Linked DNA regions of Homo sapiens. The protein of the gene in region 2 interacts with the protein of the main gene of each other region in a pairwise test. Each region holds a gene or a part of one and is shown on either strand. Other genes may lie near its edges.

Evidence for each region. Proteins that work in one complex are often made in the same cells at the same time.
Region 1: the proteins of BRAP (region 2) and ZNF521 interact in a two-hybrid assay, tested with the Homo sapiens proteins (one study listed by BioGRID and IntAct).

The regions. Positions count from the first base shown.
Region 1 is NC_000018.10:25,342,167-25,349,806, reverse strand, and holds part of ZNF521 (zinc finger protein 521), read left to right. Parts: intron 1-4,459; exon of another isoform or gene 4,460-4,555; intron 4,556-7,640. UniProt on the Homo sapiens protein: Transcription factor that can both act as an activator or a repressor depending on the context. Involved in BMP signaling and in the regulation of the immature compartment of the hematopoietic system.
Region 2 is NC_000012.12:111,674,675-111,682,956, forward strand, and holds part of BRAP (BRCA1-associated protein), read right to left. Parts: intron 7,162-8,282; coding exon 6,963-7,161; intron 4,667-6,962; coding exon 4,477-4,666; intron 1-4,476. UniProt on the Homo sapiens protein: Negatively regulates MAP kinase activation by limiting the formation of Raf/MEK complexes probably by inactivation of the KSR1 scaffold protein.

The DNA of each region.
Region 1 (7,640 bases), on a different chromosome or scaffold from region 2:
CTGGTGCGCCCGCCCGGGCCCGCTGGGTCCCGCCGAGGTCCGCGCGGCCCGGCCCCGCCCTCTGGTCCCCGGCGGCGCAGCATCCTCTTCCTCCTGGCTGCCGGGCCGCGGCGCCCCGTGGCCCCGGTTCCCGCACCAGCTTCCCGACTCGCCGCCGGCCCGGGGAAAAGGGGTGGGCAGGGCCCGGCGCCCCACGCCTCCCGGCCCCCGGCCGCTGTGCATTTTTGAACTCGATGAACGGAGCCCTCACCGCACACACAAAGCCCTTTCTTTCTTCTCCTGGGAAGGGACGGGGTGGGGGAGGGCCTCGCAGATTGGAACGCTTGCTTTTTTCCTAAAGCGCAGAAGTTTTAGTTCGGGAACGAGGTGAATCATTGGCATGTGTCTCCACACAGTGTGTCTGGTGGTTTCCGTCACATGGGCCCCTCATTTTTCTGGGGGAAACCTAGACCCAGGGCCTGAAAGATCCAAGTGTCGACAGTGAAAAAAGAAACGCCACGGGCGTGCGCGGGTGTCAGGGTAACGGTGGACCAGGCTCGCGCCGGCGAGACTTGCCCGAGACCCCGGCTTTCTTGAAAGTAACGCTGAGCGAAGTACCAGGACAAACCTCTTCCTAGTCACTTGGAAAGAAGAACTTTCCGAGTTGAAGTAGGATAGCGGTTAGTGCCTGTCCGGTGGAAAGGGCTCCAAGAAGCTTCTGAAACCCCGTGAAGGAATTTGGGAGGGATTTTTCTTTTCAAAAAAAAAAAAGTTTATTAAAGTTTGCACGATTGGCAGTTTTGTTCACTCGCAGCTTCTGAGCATTTGGTTCACCTGCTTTTGGAGTGAATTTACAGCGAAAGTTTGGTTGACTGTGAATGCGTTTGTTCCCAGTGCTTCCTGAAGATGATTTCTTCTCATGCACGTAGGATTTTATGGGCAGTAAAGGGAATCCGTCAGTTGACGGTATTCGCTGGGCAGGTTTGATAAGTCGAACTGCAAAATACCTGTGCAGTTCTTAGGTTAATAAGCAAAAAATGGCAAGTGAAGAATGAGTAAAGAGGACATTTTATTCTTTTATCGTCATGTTGCAAAATTATCCAAATATCTTCCCCACAAAGACAGCATCTGTTTCAACTGCTAAATTCTAAATAAAATATTTACACTAAAAACAAAGATTTAGCTTCCATATTCTGTGTGGGCGCGGAACACAGTGCTGTTCTCTCCTATCAGCTGCTTGGACAACTCCCAAAAGAGCGAATGGCCTCAGGTGGGCTGGCTGGGCTTTTGGGGATGAGAAGCTGAAGACAGGAATAAAAATAGTACAGTCCTCACTGAAGAGCGGATTGTTTTTCTTCAGGGTATGCCTTGAAAAATTCATATGTAGATGAGCTATACCAAACGAATCATTTTGATATTAGTAGCGGTTTTGAAGAAGAGGAAGGGCATTCTGGGTGGCTCTTGTTAAATACCTAGCCTTCTCTTCAGTATTTTGATTTCCCTATGTCTTCTTGGAAGGGTCTCCAATTTTTCAAAATGTGTTGTAGGAGTGTTCTGAGTATGCGGATTGTCCATTATATCATTCAGAAGGTCACACTTGGATCATAGAAAAGCCAGAGAGGTGTTATTATGACCTGTGTTCTGGTATCATATTAGTAGTAATATGCAGTGAACAACACTTTGCTATCAGCAGGTATAGAAAGGCAGTCCTGTTGTGTTTCTTCATTTATGAATAACTGATTAATAGGTTTGCAATTAAAAGATAAAAAGTCTGATTTTATTAGATGAGTGACAGTATTTCAAAACCATGTAGATTATAGCCAACTTGAAGGAGGCATTGGAAACCATGAAAATGCAATAGGCCCTTCTAAATAAAACATGAAGTTCTGCACTGAATTTCCAACTTCTGTCTTACATGCATACTAGTACTTTAACCAACAAGATGTAAAAGATATTGCTGACATGACTGTCAATTTGATATAATTTGAAACTTGTATCTCAGGAAAGTCATTTACCTAAGGCAGATAAAAACATGAAGACACAATGTCAGTTAGGTTTGGAGTCTGTATTTTCAACCAAATGCTTAAAAATACAGATTACCAGGACATTTCTATTAACAGTTGAATTTATTGTGTGAATTCTCATAATTTAGTACCCTGAAGGAATAATTATGTTTACTTGAAAAAGTATGCTGGGTTTTTTGTTTGTAGGAAACTTCAGTGTAATTGTCCTAAGAATCCATCTCCTGAGAGTAGGTACCATATTTCTAGCTTCAGTGGAGCAGGTCCTGGTTGGTCTACTTACCTCCTCTAAAGTACATTAAACCTGTTAAACACCGAAAAGATTCACTTTTCTATTTGTAAAAGCTGGAAATATATTTTGAAACATGGAACTCCTTTACCCCTCCTGCCTTTCAAAGCCCTAGCATCAAAATTCTATCAGCCCACATACAAAGTTGACAAACTTATTCTGTCCTTATGGTACGAATCTTCTGGATAACCCCTTCTATTTAATGAAATAGAGAATTGAAGCCAGTTATTAGAGGCATGGATGGACAGACAATTAAATGAGTCACTCTTTCTGCCCCATTTATATTATTTGGATATTTGTCTCAATTCCTGAGAGTAGACATGGTACTTGAGTAGATTACCTGACTCAAAATAGTTCTCCTGTCAGCTTATTTTTAGAGGCAGCAAATCAGTTGCATCAAATTGGTCAATTGTGACCTATTTCTATTTTTCTTGCTGGCTATTTATTCTCTTTCTTGTGGTGCCTCTCTGATGGAAGTTTCTCGGCCATTTTACCTAATAACAAACAATTTTTTTTTGAAATTTACTCCAAAAAGCACTGTAAAAAGGAAAAAGTGGTCCACTATATAAAGGTGTGATATATTCAGTAAGAGCCAAGTTATAAAGCTGGGAAGGAGAGAGGGGAGCACTTAGTCATTTAGATGGCCAAGTTAAACACAAGACACAATTAGGATATCTGAACCCTCAGGTGTTCATAAACCCATACCAGGGACCTCTGGAGAGGAGTGGTGGGAACCAGGGAGAAAGAGAGCCCCAGAAGTGCCTTGTTTAACTTGGCCGTCACAGTAGCTAACCCTTTGTAACTTGGCACATTTTGAAGTTATCACACTTGTGATTGACCTTTCCCCCATTTACCTTCTTTTGTACTTAGGAAGGTTTATTTTATTTTATTTTTGAGTAGAGTAATTTATTTAGAAATGTAATAGAGTGGCAAAACTTAGTCTGCAATTTAAAGAAGAAATGTAAACTATAGAATTTGAATGTAAAGGCAATGGATTTTAAGCCTGAAACCTTTTGAAAGTAAGAAAACCTGTGTATTAGGCTGTATTCTCTAGTGGAAAAGCTCTAAAAATTGTAGGTGTTAGAAAAGCCACCTCAGGGAGCTTGTACTGGCCCTGAAATTTAATAGAAACATTAAACTCTGCAGTCCTTATTTAAACACATTTTTTTCTCTTATGTTCAAAGTCAAAATATATATACTTACGGGTAGACAGGTGAAGTATAACCAAAAAAAAAGTGTTTCTCTTATATTTCATATGTTTCATTTCTTAGACAAAAAAAAACCTCATCAGTAAAGATTGAGTTTTGATTTTGGAAATGATGACATAATTAGAAAAAAAAAGCCCCCAAGTTTGTGTGTAAAGGTAATTGTTTTAAGACAGTGCAGTGCTTTGCTTTTAAGAATTGCAATATGGCTTTCCCTCAAAATTATTTTTAGATAGGTTGTGACTCCCTTTTTTCATGATTAGATTTTAACCTAAGGTAAGTTTTTTAAAAAATAAGAAAAGATACATACACACACAAATTAGAGAGAGAGATTTTTTTTCATGATTGTACAGGCAAAAATACTAATTGGCATACAGAAATGTATGCTTTACTTTTGGACTTGTATGCTAAAAAGCCTGATTATTGGAAACACTGCAGAAGCTCAAACAGTGTTTGACATCCATACTCCTTCAGACACTTGCAAATGTTCTTCTATTTATCTATCAACCAGTGACTGTTTCTTCCCTCCACCACCTTTAAATTATACTGACTAGATGTTGAAGTCATTAAATTCATTATAGTCCAATCAGTAGACAATCCGACATAAACAAAAACAGCAATTACAGTTGGCAAGGATCCCATGAGTGCTAGTCAAAGTTCCAGAACTGATGGTCCAGTGAGTCTCTTCCAAAACGCCGGTTTCACGATTTCAGCACTTCTGGCAGCATCTTCCTAAAGTGAGGGCACACAAATTCATAAGATTCCACTTGGCCTTAAAAACAAAAACATCTGTTTTATGCATGAGTGGATTGTTGTCTTTTATTCATCCAGCCAAAAAAGGACAAAAAATAGGATACTGAACATAAAAGCATACATGTAAAAATGAAATTACAAAGGGATTTGAGATTAGCAAGCAGCCTTTTATAAAGCAAGCTGTTAATAATTTTTCTTTTTTGTTTTGCCAGAGTATTTCCATATCCTTTAAAAACCACTGTAGTTATCCTTACTGACAGCAGTGACGTCTAACAGTGATGACAGAATTTTTCAACTTTTTGCTTCCGGTAATTATACTTAGTTCTTTGTACTTGCTTATTTGGTCTAGTGCAAGACTCGTAGCATATTTGTAGGAGATTTCTTTTCACCTTAGAGGAACATTTGTACCTGCCTCCCTCTATTTTTAAAGGAGTCTGTTTGTGAGGGCTCGTTAGTCTGGTAAATTCTAGTTAAATACTTGTTGACATAAGTTGAAGCATATTATTAAGTATACTTGCTTGAGTTTTCATTTTGATGTAAAAGCATGTAATAAGAAGAAAGAGGTTTTGATAGTAGAAAAGAGTAGGTCTACTAAGATCAATTAAGAATTTTATTAAGGGTCTCTTTTTCCTATTAATGTGTTTTATTAATTCATCTGTCAGGATTCACATTGCTGGTTTACTGTCATTAATTCTGTTGCCACAGAATACATTCCTCATGGCTGGATTTAATGGATACTATGTTCAGTTTTTCAGTTAATTTTAAGAGGGAAAGTGATTTTAAGACTTGCAGTATTTGTTTATTTTAGCAGCTGTCTGCATCATTAAAAATGTAAATATTATCATTAAGTAAGATGTGAAAGAATGCTTTTGAATTGAATGAGATTTTGATACAAAGGCTGATATTCCACGTCAAACCTGTAGCTAAGTATTTTCCCAGATGTATTTAATTTTTTTCTTCATTGACTCCTGTTGTGCTGTCAAAGGTTAAAGTTAGTTCTAGGGGTGGGGGAGATGCATGCAACTTTCTAATTCCATTTCAATTAAATCTGAAATGTTCCTGTTTTTTGTTTGGGGACTACATGGTGCTAGGATTGCATATACCTTGTTTGTTGTAGTGAAAGCGTACTTGTCTGATTTAAAATATGTTCTGCAACAGTGTTATTACAAAGCAATTAAAACTTAAACATTAAAGTTAACATTAGTAAATTTAAATAGCTCTGTTATAGTATTAATCAAATAGTGTAAGGAAAGCTTTTAAATGGTTTAAATAATTATGCAACTCCTGGCATAAAAAGCCCGACACAAGATAAATCTCTGAAAACTAAGTAGAATCGCAGCTTTTTTTTTTTTTTTAATAAAAAACTTTAATTTTAGGCACCTTGGGCTTTTAGCATGCATCACATTCCACCTCTAGTATAAGTAATTATGCCAGTTTAGTAATTATTAGAGATGAAAGAAATTCAGTAAGATATGAATTCTTTAAAACTTCAGTAGCTTCAGTTTTAGCAGGGATAATGATCAAGCAGCAGTTATCCTGCTGCCTGGGGACCCTGCCACAGCTACAAGCACTGGGCTGATCTTGTGGGTATCATTATTATGGCAGCACATACTATAGTTAGTATTTCTACTCTAGTTGTCAGATTGCAGAGGTTTATAATTTGGTCATTAAACAAATTTAGATTCCAATATGACTGTGTAAAAACTCCCCTTTCTTAGAACACTTTTTAAAAAAAGATTAAGTTTAAAAATTATTATTTTGGGGCAGCATCTCTTTTAATTCTATGGGATAGTAAATGCTTTGAAAAATCCTGAAAAGAAAAAAAATGTGTATGCCTGTCATTTTTATGTGTGTATGTGTTAGGTACGTGTTCATTTTGAATCTTATTTTTAAATAAAGATGATTTGGTTTGGAAAGCATATATACTATTCCCGCATGATCATAGCTCTCCCAATCTGAGCAAGGTCAAGTGATTGACATTCAGAATATTTGTTTTCATAATAGTGCAGTTTGTTGGATTTATATTTCAATATTTTGGTTATGATAATTTTTTTGTATATGTGAAACCCAAGAGTTTACGTCCCTCAGTTATCACAACATATTGTGACACACACATACATAGTCTATATACACGGAAACATACTCTAAACCTTCTGTAGGAAATGCACTTTGTTTAGTAAGTCCATATAAGTGTTAATAATGTTTTAAGGGAAAAATTGGATTTTTTTCCAATTAAAATTGGTGTCAAAGAATAAGATTTCCTTTTTGAAATTAAAATCAGCGTATCATTGAGTCTCATTATTTCACTGACTTTATTACCTTCTCTTTCCATCTTATGATTGGCTTTTTCTCAAAATTTATTATCCCATCAGTATACTGTGAAGGATATGATATGTCAAGATGGAAACTTATTTACCTGATAGGGACAAAATCCTCATTGATTACAGACAGTTCCATATATTCATACAAAATACATTTGTTGAAACCTGTAGTGAGGTGAACAGTCCACACAGTAAACTATAACTTGCCATATTATAGGAGTTTCTGTGACCTGGAATCTAAAAAATATCACTGTGCTTTAAACTTTATATTGACTTCAAGAAACAATTTCCAGCATTTCATACGTGTTCTTAGCTAATATTCTTATCTTTCACAATAGAGCCAGATTAGGTCCAGTTAGTGCTTGAATAAGACTACATATTAATTGCTTTCAGCATTCCTAATGATTTAGGTTGTCTTAGTTGTGTTAAGTTTATCAGACATATGCTTTTTATTACCACTATCAGCACCTTTTGTCTTTCATTGATTACTTTTATACATTAAGAAAAAGAAGGCCAGGCGCGGTGGCTCACGCCTGTAATCCCAGCACTTTGGGAGGCCGAGGCGGGCGGATCACGAGGTCAGGAGATCGAGACCATCCTGGCTAACACGGTGAAACCCCGTCTCTACTAAAAATACAAAAAATTAGCCGGGCGTGGTGACGGGCGCCTGTAGTCCCAGCTACTTGGGAGGCTGAGGCAGGAGAATGGCGGGAACCTGGGAGGCGGAGCTTTCAGTGAGCCAAGATGGCTCCACTGCACTCCGGGCTCCAGCCTGGGCGACAGAGCGAGACTCTGTCTCAAAAAAAACAAACAAACAAACAAAAAAAAAACAAAGGAAAGAAAAGGAAAAAGGCTGTAAAGTCTTCACAAACATTGATCTACCAAGTACTAATGAAGCCAAAACAGAATCATTGCTTGAATGCTGATGTATGGAGTCTGAAGTTCCTATACATAGGGGGGTTTGGGGTTGTCAGTGTGCAACTTGCAAAGTTGTATGATGTTTTGCAGACATGAGGCAAGGGTTAAGAAGAACTGTGGGCTCAAGGGAGTGCATATTAATTCCTGGAAAGAG
Region 2 (8,282 bases):
CCGTGTATTGAGCATAGTGCATTACAATTTGAAAATGTTTAAAGCCAGCTGTTGGAGAAGAAGCCTCTTTAATACTAAGAGGTTACAACCTAATATGGCTTCCCCCATTCTTCAGGAGCAACGGTTTCTTGAAATGCTTTTGGCTAAGTAAGCAGCAAAGTCAGCACATGGATTCACCAGGAGAAAACGGACTGCCTGAAAGTCAGGGCCTTCTCTCACCTCTTCAGAGCCTCAGGCACCACCAGTGGCTGGTAGAGCCCTCTTGGGGTCTAGAGCTCTGCAAATGCTCACTAAACGACCAGCCTCCTCTACAGGAAAGGATAAGGCATGTGACCAAAACCATTCAATGAATTATTCCTTTCTGCTACCTGAGCCCAGGAGTTTGAGACCAGCCTGGGCAACGTGGCGAAACCCCATCTGTACAAAAAATACAAAAATTAGCCGGGCATGGGGGTGGAAGCCTGTAGTCCCAGCTATTTGGGAGGCTGAGGTGGGAGGATAGCTTGAGCCCAGGAGGTGAAAGCTGCAGTGAGCCGAGATCGTGCCACTGCAGTCCAGCCTGTGCAGCAGAGTGAGACCTTGTCTCCAAAAAAAATAAAATAAAATAAAAAAGGAGAAGAAGCATGTAGGTGAGTTGTCATGGTGGCCTACACTAGGATGATTGTGGCAGAAATGAAAAAAGTAAAAAGAAAAAGTACTTTTTTGTAATGACAACATCACTAAACAGCTGAGATTTCCCAATTAACATATTGATCTCTTCTTTAAAATCTTGGTATTAGAAATGCACCTTCACCTGTTCACATATTTTCTGAGCATCTAGTATGTGCCAGGCCCTGTGCTATGTACTAGGTAGAGAGTAGGGAACAAACTACACATGGTTCCTACTTCAACTCACCATCTAAATGCACTAAACAAAAGCCTGAAGCTAACTGCCAAGAACATTGCAGAAACAGCTTTTATTGAAAATGTTTGCATTGTGTGGACCCAAAACTTTAAATAAACCTGGCTTTTGTTTCCCTCTAGTCCTTTGGTTTTATTGTTCTCTTCTGAGGATTAACTCAGAAAAAGACAAATCCATTATGATCAAGTTCCTTCGCTGTCACAGGAATCAACTACAGTGTTGAGAACATACCTCTACTTCTCCAAGGAGGTGTCTGCTAAGGCTGTGGTAACTAAGCACGCAGGTGAAAAAAGCCAACATACTCTATTAAGTGGTCATCTGTCCTTTTCTGCCCCCAAGAACAACAAAATTGAACTTCCTTCTGCTTTTCCTATGTCCTGAAGAACTGTAAATTCTCTACCCAAAGACCAAGTTTCCTAAGGGTCACACTACAAATTGGTAAGCACACCCCCCCTTTTTTTTTGATCTTTTAAAAAAAATTTTTAAGAAACAGGATCTTGCCATGTTGCCCAGGCTGGTCTTGAACCCCTGGCCTTAAGCAATACTCCTGTCTTGGCCTCCCAAGGTGTTGGGATTACAGACATGAGCCACCACACCTGGCCTCACAACTCTTTCAGCTAAAGCTAAGGCCAACAGAAATTCAAAAATTACCAAAGATAAAGAGAAGGCTTATAAGTCCTTATTTAAAAATCTGTGGTGAGGAAAAGAATAAAAACATAGTTAGGTGCCCAGGCTATGGAGTCAGGCTGCCTAGGTTTGAACCCTAACTCTGACACCTACTAGCTGTTTGGCTGCAGGCAAGTGACTTATCTGTGCCTGTTTCCTCAACTGTAAAATACATGGCATTTTTTTTTTTGAGACAGAGTCTCGCTCTGTTGCCCAGGCTGGAGTACAGTGGTGTGATCTTGACTCACTGCAACCTCCACATCCCAGGTTCAATAGTTTCTCCTGCCTCAGCCTTTCAAGTGGCTGAGATTACAGGCGTGCGCCACCACATCCAGCTAAGTTTTATATTTTTAGTAGACATAAGCTTTTACCATGTTGGCCAGGCTGGTCTCAAACCACTGCCCTCAAGTGTTCCGCCCACCTTGGTCTCTCCCAAAGTGCTGGGATTAAAGGCATGAGGCACTGCACCTGGCCAACATGGCATCGTTGAGAGGATTCAAGGAGACAATGCATGGAAAGCACTTGGCACAGGGTCCGGTCTCTAGTAAGTGCTTCAGAGTTGGTAGCTACTGAGCCTATTATTCTCACTACAGCCGATATTAGTTTAACTTCCAGTCTTACACCAAGAGGGTATTATTAGGTATTAGAAAATCCCTGTTAGGATGATAGGGATTAGCCCCTAAGACCCAGAGTTAGCAATAAATAATACAACTCATGATACCAAGATAAAGGGTTCTAGCCCCATGGGGAAGAGCATGCAGCAACCTGTTTCGCAGTCTCAGAAAAACATGTCAACTTGAGCAACCTTCACTTGATCAAAAGACACAAGGGGAAGGATAGTGCAGATGTACAAGGAAAATTCATTCACAGTAAATATCCACAGTACTACCTGCACATTATGAAGGGCAGTACTTGTTATAGGGAACTGTGTGGGTTTATTAAACAGGTGACTGTGGTGGATTTATACGACTTCAGACTATTTCAAAAGCCTGAGTGCTCTTCAACATTTTTTTCCCAATCTATTTCTGGGTCTTTTCCTTTGTTACTTGCTTATTGCCCTAGTTGTTAAGTAGAAACTGTAACAATACTGCTGTCATAGAATGTCTCACAAACAACCGCCTCCCTTCCCCACACCTTCATCCCACTCCTACTAGAAGAGGAACGCGTCCCTGGAATTAAAAGTGAGGGTGCCACACTCTTGCTTGTCATTTATGTCTAGCTATGTAACCTTGGGCAAACCATGTATCTCCCTCTGCAGTCACCCTCCTCATCTGTAAAACAAAGATAACAACACAGTTTCCGCAAGGGATTGTAGTGAGGATTAAATGAGACAAAGTGTATTGAACACTTAGCACAGTGAGTGATACAGAAGCCATCGATAAACGTTGGATATTATCATCATTATCCTTATTATTACATGTGCTACCAGACTGAAATGGCTTAAGGCACGATTTTCCCATGGTTTGCAAAGCTCCTTGGCACCCTTGGAAGGCTTTCTGATGGACAGTGAAAGGAGCTATTCAAGTGCTTTTCTGTTCTTAATGTCAACTTGTAAACTTTAAATCCAAAGGATAATTGAAACCTTTTAAATGTCTCCCTAAATGATGGGGTACTTTGTAAACAGAAAACATAATAACTGTGTACTCTCTTGCAGACAGAACTCCACACTAAAGCTTCTCTCTGGAGATCACAGAACAGGTACACTCTTCCCCCACTAAAAAGAGAATGAGGCCGGGTGCAGTCGCTCACGCCTGTAATCCCAGCACTTTGGGAGGCTGGGGCGGGCAGATCACCTGAGGTCCAGAGTTTGAGACCAGCCTGACCAACATGGAGAAACTCCGCCTCTACTGAAAATACAAAATTAGCCAGGCATGGTGGTGCATGCCTATAATCCCAGCTACTCCGGAGGCTGAGGCAGAATGGCTTGAACCCAGGAGGTGGAGGTTGCTGTGAGCTGAGATCGTGCCATTGCACTCCAGCCTGGGCAACAAGAGTGAAACTCCGTCTCAAAAAAAAAAAAAAAAAAAATGAAAGAAGTGGGGGTAATGGAAAAATAATAAGATGGTGTTAACTTCAAAAAGTCTGGGAACCACCGCTTTTCTGGAATAGTTACCGCTTGTTTAAAAAAACAAACAGGCCGGGCATGATGGCTCACGCCTGTAATCCTAGCACTTTGGGAGACTGAGGCGGGTGGATCACAAGGTCAGGAGTTCGAGACCAGCCTGGCCAACATAGTGAAACTCTGTCTGCACTAAAAATACAAAAATTAGCCAGGCATGGTGGTGCATGCCTGTAGTCCCAGCTACTCAGGAGGTTGAGGCAGGAAAATCGCTTGAACCCGGGAGGCGGAGGTTGCAGTGAGCCGATACCACACCACTGCACTCCAGCCTGGGCGACAGAGCGAGAATTCGTCTCAAAAAGAAACAAACAAAAAAACACACTAGATTTTTTTTTTTTTTTTTTTTGAGACGGAGTCTCACTCTTGCCACCCAGGCTGGAGTGCAGTGGTGTGATGTCAGCTTTCTGCAACCTCTGCCTCCTTGCAAAACCCTAAACTTCATACTCAATCTGATCTATAAAAAATCATGGGCATGAGGCCAGGTGCAGTGGCTCAGAGCATCTGTAATCCTAGCACTTTGGGAGGCCAAGGCAGGAGGATTGCTTGAGGCCAAGAGTAGCCTGGAAAACACAGCAAGATCTCATCTCTACCGAAAAAAAAAAAAGTGTATACGTTATAATTGTATTTCTGCTAATGAATTTAGAAATACATCTAGAATTACAATTATATCTTAGAAGACATCTCAAGAATCTTAAGTGCAAAATGTTGTAAATCACACACAGCTATCATACAGTTTGAATACCACAGTTTCTGTGGCAAAGAGATTTTTAATAAATTTAATAACTTTTACCTGTGCACGAAACTTTATCAGCACCATATATTGGTTGGGAGTAGAGTCTCTGATAATTTTCATTTGTTCAATTACTTCGTTAAATGGGGCAACAAACTTCATAAGGTCATGACTGGTCATTGCAGCAGGGACTGTGAGAATACACAGCATGGCACTGCGCCGCACATCTTCTTTTAAGGAGGTCATCTTACTAACAAAAAAAAAATTAGAGTGTCTTGAATAGATGAGGTATGGTTAGTTTAAACAATACTAGACAACTTTTATGTCCAAGAAAACAGGAAAAAATAAAAATTGTAATATTTCATTAATGAACTGTTCTATATTATACCCCCCATTGGACTTTTTAATCTTCAGTTCAACATTTATTACGGTTATAAATCTGCATTCGGTAAATTTGCAGTGTTTTACTCTCATCAATGTTTGAATAATAATCTGTCACTGGTGGCCAGGCACAGTAGCTCATGCTCGTAATCCCAGCACTTTGGCAGGCCGAGGCGGGTGGATCACGAGGTCAGGAGATCGAGACCATCCTGGCTAACACGGTGAAACCCCATCTCTACTAAAAATACAAAAAAAATTAGCCGGGCATGGTGGCAGGTGCTTGTAGTCCCAGCTACTTGGGAGGCTGAGGCAGGAGAATGGTGTGAACCTGGGAGGCAGAGCTTGCAGTGAGCCAATATCGCGCCATTGCACTCCAGCCTGGGCCACAGAGCAAGACTCCATCTCAAAAAAAAAAAAAAAAAAAAAAATCTGTCACTGGTTAACTTAAAAGCACAACTCTGGCTATGGACCTCTCTTAAAAGGCCTAAAAAAACAGCTCTAAATATACGAGAGAATTCTGTCTTTTTTTTTTTCAGAGTCTTGCTGCATGGTCTCGGCTCACTGCAACCTCTGACTCCTGGGTTCAAGCAATTCTCCTGCTCAGCCTCCCAAGTAGCTGGGATTACAGACGCGTGCCACCACGCCGGGCTAATTTTTGTATTTTTAGTAGAGATGGGGTTTCACTATGTTGGCCAGGCTGGTTTCGAACTCCTGACCTCGTGATCCCCCGCCTCGGCCTCCCAAAGTACTGGGATTACAGGCGTGAGCCACCACGCCCGGCAAGAGAGAATTCTAAACCATGAGGATGTAACTGAGGATTACAGGAAGTGTTACCAAGTTGAGATGGCTGGAATAGAGAGGAAAGAAAATCCTCCCACAATGCAATTTGTTTTTTGAAATGCTGCAAACTCACTTGACAGCTGTGATCCAGAATGGCTACCTGTGCCGGGTGCAGTGACTCACACCTGTAATCCCAACACTTTGGGAGGCTGAGGTGGGCTGATCACTTGAGGTTAGGAGTTCGAGACCAGCCTAGCCAACATGATGAAACCCCATCTCTGCCAAAAAAAAAAAAAAAATTAACTGGGCGTGGTGGTGTGCACCTGTGGTCCCAGCTACTCTGAGGCAGGAGAATTGCTTGAACCCGGGAGGGGAGGTTGCAGTGAGCCAGGATTGCACCACTGCACTCCAGCCTGAGTTATGGAGTGAGACCCTGTCTCAAAAAAAAACAAAACAAAAAACAAAACAAAAAACAAAACAAAAAACAAAATGGCTACCTGAATAGTCACTGTTTTCCCAGTAGAGATCTGGCAAATGAGTTAGCACAAGAACAGCCTTAAGGTATCAGCTACCATTACCCAAGAAGGTAGTGGCTGGGCTTGTGGATTATCTAGCCAAATGCTTCCTTTCCTTGGGGCTCTAGCAAGCTTTGTTTGAACCACAGAAAATGGTAAAAAAGAGGTAATAAAATTGTAATGAGTTAACTGACTTCTTAGCAGCCTCTTCAGTAAAGATTTGGTGGGGACATGAGACTACAAAGATGCTGTGGATCATTTTCTTTGTCCTTTCAATTCCCCATCACCTTCCATGCCTATCTGCTAAGAAAACATTTTCCTGGCAGGGCGCAGTGGCTCACGCCTGTAATCCCAGCACTTTGGGAGGCTGAGGCGGGCGGATAACCTGAGGTCGGAGTTCAAGACCAGCCTGGCCAACAGGGTGAAACCCCATCTCTACTAAAAATACAAAAAATTAGCTAGGTGTGGTGGTGGGCACCTGTAATCCCAGCTACTTGGGAGGCTGAGGAAGGAGAATCACTTGAACTCAGGAGGCAGAAGATGCAGTGATCTGAGATCGCGCCATTGCACTCCAGCCTGGGCAACGAGACCGAAACTCCATTTCAAAAAAAAAAAAAGAAAACATTTTTCCCACATATTCTCTTAAGTGTATCCACAAGCATTTCTTTTATAAGGAAAAGCTTTGACCCAATCCACAAGATTAATCAAATGTAAAACATCTGAGAATTCTCTAACATACAACAGACAAAAGTATTATTATTTTGAAGCTTAAAATACCCACTTTCCTTCAGGACAAGAGACTATGCTAAAGCAAAGCAAAAAAAAAAAAAAAAAAATTGACTAACCCCCAAGAAAAGAGGGTTTTCTTACTTTGTCTTATATAGGTGCATAATACCATGAACTATTTCAACTGATGGATTTCCACTGAAGAATGAAATCTGGTCTGGAAGCTGTTTGGACGGAGAATCTGGGGCAGCGTTTATGCATTCCTTACTGTGATCTTTACTTCTTTGCGCAGTGGGGGAGGCTTCTGAAGACTTCCTTTCTTCCACTGTAGTTTTTAGTTCATCTTTCACCAGTTAAAAAATAGCAGATTATAAATGGATAGGACATATGCTGAAGGATTTGAACTAGATTAAAATTTCAAGTCAGAGGAATAAACTTTGATAGAGTAATTACAATGTAATGCATTAACAGCTATTATTTGTAGAATAGCTGAGTTTATGAGGGCATCATACTTTAAAGCTCTCTTTGCTCCATAAAAATCTCATTAACACCCTCAGAAACTTAAGGATGGCTATTACATTTGGCAATACCATAATGCAAGCAGGTATCTTCTATCACGAAATCCTAACTGGGACAAACATTCAGGGCTACTAAGGTGGAAATCCAAACCTACCAGTTCTGACCACCTCCATGTTGGAGATGTAGTACTATCTACACATCCACTTCCGCAGATAAAATGAGCTGGCTGGCCGGGTGCAGTGGCTCATGCCTGTAATCCCAGCACTTTGGGAGGTCAAGAGGTTGAGACCATCCTGGCTCACATGGTGAAACCCTGTCTCTACCAAAAATACAAAAATTAGCTGGGTGTAGTAGCGTGCACCTGTAGTCCCAGCTACTTGGGAGGCTGAGAGAGGAAGGAGAATTGCTTGAAACCAGGAGGTGGAGTTGCAGTAAGCCGAGATCATGCCACTGCACTCCCACCTGGGGACAAAGTGAGACTGTCTCAAAAAAAAAAAAAAAAAAAAAGAAAAGAAAGAAAGAAAAAATGAGCTGGCAGAGCAGGGGAAGGCACGACATGTTTATTTGGACACATTAATGATCTGCCACTGAACTAGGTGGTAAGAAATTCTCCCTGGTAGCCGGGTGTGGTGGCTCACACCTGTAATTCCAGCACTTTGGGAGGCCGAGGCAGGTGGATCACTTGAGACCAGGAGTATGAGACCAGCCTGGCTAACATGGAGAAACCTTGTCTCTACTGAAAATACAAAAATTACCCAGGCGTGGTAGAGGGCATCTGTAATCCCAGCTACTTGGGAGGCTGAGGCAGGAAGACTGCTTCAGCCCAGGAGGCTGAGGTTGTAATGACCCGACATTGCACCACTGCACTCTAGCCTGGGCAACAGAGACCCTGCCTCAAAAAAAAAAGTCCCCCCCGTCACTGAACTGAATTGTCAACTCCAACTG